Linked DNA regions of Homo sapiens: region 2 is linked to region 1. Evidence: fine-mapped QTL for protein levels in blood plasma. A gene starts in region 1. The other region holds a variant in brackets. All regions are shown on one strand. Distances are from middle to middle.

Region 1 (2,907 bases):
AGATCGAGACCATCATGTCCAACATGGTGAAACCCCGTCTCACTAAAAATACAAAAACAAAATTAGCTGGGGGTGATGGCGGACGACTGTAGTCCCAGCTACTCAGGAGGCTGAGGCGGCAGAAAGGCATGAACCCGGGAATCGAGCTTGCAGTAAGTGGAGATCGCGCCACTGCGCTCCAGGCTAGGCCACAGAGCGAGACTCCGTCTGAAAAAAAAAAAAAAGAGAGAGAGAGAGAGAAAGAAATCCTCCATCCAGCCCTGTTGGTTGTGTATGTGTTGGAGGGGGTGGAGGGGCAGCCTTCTCAGGCTTTCAAGGAGGGCTCCCTAGCACCTCAGCTAAGATTTGTTTGTCTATACTATTAAAAGATAGACATAACTGTGTCCCAAACCAGCCTCCCCAGTTCCCACCAGCCAGAGCGCCTGACCTTGCAGGGAAGCTTATCTGTTTACCGTCCGAGCACTTTCAGGGATTCTAAAATGCCGTGAGTGGGAACCACTGCCATGGGCCATTTCCATGAAAATTCAATTTCGGGGATTAATTTGAACAGGTACTATTGACGTTTTCTCGTTTACACAAGATCAAAGAGTAAAAACAACCGGGCCTCTGCTTAACAGTTGAGGATTCTAGCAAAGTTAGGAAACAGGTTTCTATTTGTAGTAGAAGAGAGAGCAGGCAGAAAGAGGAAGATGGGAGCGGGGAGAGATTGGCAGAGATTCAGAAAGTTCGCGCTTGAGATTTTTACGTTTCTTACTCGTAAACGTCTATTTCTCTGGGTTTCTGAATGCAAAGACGAGAAAGTCTCAACAGTCTGCTAAACTAACACGGCCTTCGAATCCCAATCTGAACACAGTAGCTGAAACAAGCTGTCCACAAAGAGGAAAGCCAGAGGGGGCCAATTAGGAAGGAAGAAATTAAAGAAAAGAGAAAAGCCAAGATGAAAGGTCCAGCGCAAAGTGAATGACTCGACTGGAGAATGGCAGCCCTGGCAGGGTCTGCGGCCGGCTGCGGAGGTGGGGACGCGGCCGCGCGGACGAGTGACAGGTTGGTCCGGCGCAGCAAAGGGAGCGGGTGCGGCGGTAGGGCCTCTCCGGGGGCAGCGCGAGGGCCTCCCCCGGGGCAGCGCGGGCCAAGGCGGGGCCTCCAGAGCGGGGGCAGCAGAGGAGGGAGCGGAACGGGAGCCGGGCGGAGGCGGCTGCGGCAGGGGGAGGCGGGAGGCGGGCGCGCTAGCTCCCATGCTGGCCTCGGTGCCACTCGCGCGCCGGCCGCGCTCCGGGCTTCTCTTTTCCCTCCGACGCGCCACGGCTGCCCAGACATTCCGGCTGCCGGGTCTGGAGAGCTCCCCGAACCCCTCCGCGGAGAGGAGCGAGGCGGCGCCAGGGTGGCCCCCGGGGCGCGCTTGGTCTCGGAGAAGCGGGGACGAGGCCGGAGGATGAGCGACTGAGGGCGACGCGGGCACTGACGCGAGTTGGGGCCGCGACTACCGGCAGCTGACAGCGCGATGAGCGACTCCCCAGAGACGCCCTAGCCCGGTGTGCGCGCCAGGCGGAGCGCGCAGGTGGGGCTGGGCTGTTAGTGGTCCGCCCCACGCGGGTCGCCGGCCGGCCCAGGATGGGCGCTGGCAACCCGGGCCCGCGCCCGCCGCTGCTACCCCTGCGCCCGCTGCGAGCCCGGCGTCCGGCCCGCGCCCTGCGCTCATGTATGTAGGTTTGGCGCCGGTCTTCAGGGCTGAGGGTGCATGCTGGGTGTCCCCGCGCGGCCGGACGCGCTCCAGCTGGGTTCAGCCGCTCAGCTGCTCCGGAGGAACCCCCTCCCCCGCCCAAGTTTGTGAATATGGGCGCTTCGCCCAGTGTTGAGGTCGGCAGGGACCGGGCAGGGGGTCAGCAGGGCCGGGCACGTCCGGAGCCCTCAGGGAGGAGGGCTGAGGGGGAGGGGACAGACGCACCGGAGTGCGCAGAGTGGGGGCGTTCGGGGAGTGAGGCGGAGAGAGGCTGGATTGCCGGTGTCCTGCGGCGTCTCGGGCTCTCCCAGCCCCTTTGGGCGGCAGAAACTTTGGAATCCAGAAAGGCTGGCCGGGATCCAGCGAGTAGGAGGGTCTCGCGCCCACTCTGCGCCCTGGGGCCCCAGCCTCCCGCACTGCACACCTTGGTGCTGCCCGGGCGCTTCTGCTCCGCAGCCAGGACACTACAAGACTGAGCGCTGCGGCCGGCGACCTGGCTCCCAAGGCTCGGAGGGGCGGGCCGGCAGAGGAGCTGAAGCCCCGGGAATCCCCGACCCGGCCCTCTGGCAAGGGGCCGAGGGCATCCTTTCATGCAGCGGGGCTTAGAGAGCGGGGAGGGGGCGTCTGCTCCCGAGACGGGAGTCTTTTAAGAAGTTGTTAGAAATGAATCGTGGAGTCCTAGGAGAAGCTTTGTTTAACCTCCCCGCATTTTCCCAGCACAACCCCCTAAAGCAAATGAGGAAGAGTTTCCCTCTTATCTTCCTGTACATTCGTCCGTCTCTAACTCCACTGCTGAATTCTCCATTTAATAACCTTCGGGAAATGTGGCCAGGACCTAGGGAGGGACACCCTGGGTGCCTGAATTACGTGGTTCAAGGCAGAGCTTTGCAGGGGGGCGCGGGCCTGGCTCGCTGCGTTCCCTGGGCTCCGCAAGCCGCCCTTGGCCATCTCCAACACTAATCACGACTACATCAGAAACACGCCGGCCGGTGTCGTTCTTGGATTTCGCTTCCAATGTATCGCTCCACAGTTTGTGATGTCTAAGAACCCCGGCCGTGCACCGACGCTGGGCATGCTGCCCCCGCCCCCGTCGCCCAGCTCGTTAATCTAGAGCTATGCCGGAGCCCGGGTGGGGGCCGCGGCGGGCCGGGGCGCGCGCGGGCCGCGGGGCTCAGTTGTGCTGCTGT
Region 2 (2,907 bases), 25 kb before region 1:
ATATTTTTCTTTCTTCAATAATAAATTAATTTTAGCTTACCTTAACTTTTTTACTTTATAAACTTTTTAACTTTAAACTTTGTGCCTCTTTTATAATAACAGCTCAAAACACATTGCACAGCTATATAAAAATATCTTCTTCTTTCTTTATATCCTTATTCTGCAAGCTTTTTCTATTTTTTAATTTTTTCTAACTTTTTTGTTAACTAAGACACTGTGTTAGGCCATTCTTGCATTGTTATAAAGAAATATCTGAGGCTGGGTAATTTATAAGAAAAGAGGTTTAATTGGCTTATGGTTCTGCAGGCTGTACAGGAAGCATAGTGGCATCTACCTCCAAGGAGGCCTCAGGAAGCTTTTACTCATGGCTGAAGCAGGCACATTACATAAGGAGAATGGGAGCAAGTGTAAGGTGGGAGTAGGCACCATGCACTTGTAAACAGCCAGATCTCAGAAGTCACTCACTATTACCAGGACAGCACCAAGAGGATGGCACTAAACCATTCATAAGAAACCCGCCTCCATGATCCAAGCACCTCCCACCAGGCCCCACCTCCAGCACTGAAGATGACAATTCAACATGACATTTACATGAGATTTAGGCGGGGGCAAATATACAAACTCTATCAGAAACAAACACACTCATTAGTCTAGGCCTACACAGAGTCAGGAGCATCAGTATCACATCTTCCACCTCCACATCTTGTCTCACTGGAAGCCCTTCAGGGGCAATGACAGGCAGGGAGCTGTCATCTATGAAAACAATGCCTACTTCTGGATGCCTCCTGAAGGACCTGATTAGGCTGTTTTTTTATAAGTAGAAGGAGTAAACTGTAAAATAATGATTAAAAGTGTTGTATAGTAAATGCATAAACCAGTTAACATAGTCATTTATTATGATTATCAAGTATTAGGTAATTTACTTAATGGTATTTGGTATACTTTTATACAACTGGCAGTGCAGTAGGTTTGCTTACATCAGTATCACTACAAACACATGAGTAATGCTACATTATGAGGGCTATGATGCCACTAGACGATAGGAATTTGTCAGCTCCATTATAATCTTATGGGGACACCATAGTGTATACGACAGTCCATCATTGACCAGTATGTCCTTATGTGGTGGATGACTATCATACCGAATCTATGCAAACTCATTCAAAGTATGAAAGACAATGGATACTATAAGAAAACCACAGAACAATAGCATTTGTGCACATAGATGCATAAATCCTCAAAAATTCTTACAAATAAAATCCAGCAATATGTAAAAATGC[T/C]AATATGTCATGATCAAGTATGTTTGGCTGGCTCGAAATCTGAAAGTCAGTCAATGTAATTCATCTTATTAATAGACTAAAGAAGAGAAAATGGATCATCTCATGGATACAGATAGAACACCCGATTAAATTAAACATATATTCATGATAAAAATGCAAAGCAAATTAAAAATTGAAGAGAACTTCTCCAGTCTGAAAAGGGACTCTAGGCCAGGCGCGGTGGCTCACGCCTGTAATCCCAGCACTTTGGGAGGCTGAGGCAGGCGGATCACGAGGTCAGAAGATCGAGACTATCCTAGCTAACATGGTGAAACCCCGTCTCTACTAAAAATAGAAAAAATTAGCCGGGCATGGTGGCGGACACCTGCAGTCCCAGCTACTTGGGAGGCTGAGGCAGGAGAATGGCATGCACCTGGGAGGTGGAGCTTGCAGTGAGCTGAGATGGTGCCACTGCACTCCAGCCTGGGTGACAGAGCAAGACCCTGTCTCAAAAAAAAAAAAAAAGAAAGAAAGAAAGAAAGAAAGAAAGAAAGAAAGAAAGAAAGAAAGAAAGAAAGAAAGAAAAGAAAAGGGACTCTAAAAAACAAACCGCTACAACAGAATACTTATGGAGGAAAGGCTGCCCAGTTTTGCCCTTAGTTCAGTCAAAAGGCAAGATGTTCATTCTAACAACTTTTGCATTCCAGGTCTTAAAGTAACTTGAAATTAGAGAGGTTCCCCAAATGCCCTCTTCTTCACCACCTCCCTCTTTCATCTACCATCCTCCATCAAGGGCATATAAGCAAAGAAGGACACCAGAAGGACCTGTGGCCTCCAGCGGGTGACAGGAGGATTATGGGACAGAGGAGCAGGTGAATCACCCCATCAGGCTGCAATTTTGCATCTTGGGCCCACTGAGAGGGTTGTGGCTTTGATTCTGTCAACTGGAGTATTACTGTAATGGGTAAAACATGTTGATTACTATAGTGCACTGGATGGAATGTGATTCTTTAAGAGTGTTGAGTCTGGAAATTCGGGAAGGCCTATTACTAGTGTTGTTGGAAGAGAAAGTGGGAAAAGCCACTGCAAGGTGAAAGGCTTTCACGGACAACTCAGTAACGAATAGCTGTCTGATCATGATGCCTGTGGGACCGGGGATAAGTCACCGCAATCTCCTGTGTTAATGTCCTCATCTGTGCAATCGGCATTTAAACCAAGGGAGGCACTGTTGCTTTAATATGCCACATCAATAGGCTGAATAAGAATAATTACAGGAATTTAAAAGTATGAGAAGAAACAGGTGAGCATTTAGCTCCTAATTTAAAATTTAAAAGGGCATCACAAATAGCATGGCATTTTATAATATATAACAGGATATGCTAAGATGTTTCTGCATGCACACATTCTTTTCCAGGAAAATCAATGACCAGGAGCACAGACCTCCCAAAATTGTGTCTTAACGAGGCTTCCAAAGCTTCTACTTATATTTTGGTAAGAACTAAGAAAGCCCAGCATACGGTTTTTAATTAAAACCAAGTGTTTATATGTGGCTGCAAAATAGTGGTTTTCCCCCCTGGTTACACAAATTATAGAGGATAAAAATGGTACAAACATCTCTTGATTTCTGACCTGAATAGCAAAGGTTGTT

Alleles and levels. Alleles are on the strand shown, and positions count from the first base shown. The strength of an association depends on the size of the effect and on how common the allele is.
For the plasma level of the protein whose gene starts at base 1,224 in region 1, allele C in region 2 goes with a lower level than allele T (strong association).

The links. PIP is the posterior inclusion probability: the model's chance that the variant is causal. Protein levels are from antibody-based Olink assays in UK Biobank. Linkage for the fine-mapping came from a reference panel and not from the study's own genotypes, which makes the PIPs less certain.
Region 2: its variant is fine-mapped to the plasma level of the VWC2 protein (UK Biobank, PIP 0.92).

Annotation. Positions count from the first base shown.
Region 1 is chr7:49,772,415-49,775,321 of GRCh38, forward strand. VWC2 (von Willebrand factor C domain containing 2) reads left to right here and starts at 1,224. Exons shown (of 4, transcript NM_198570.5): 1 at 1,224-1,699.
Region 2 is chr7:49,746,983-49,749,889 of GRCh38, forward strand. No RefSeq gene overlaps it. Among named protein-coding and RNA genes, the nearest start is that of VWC2, 25 kb to the right of the region's middle. The variant T/C (reference allele first, on the strand shown) is at 1,281.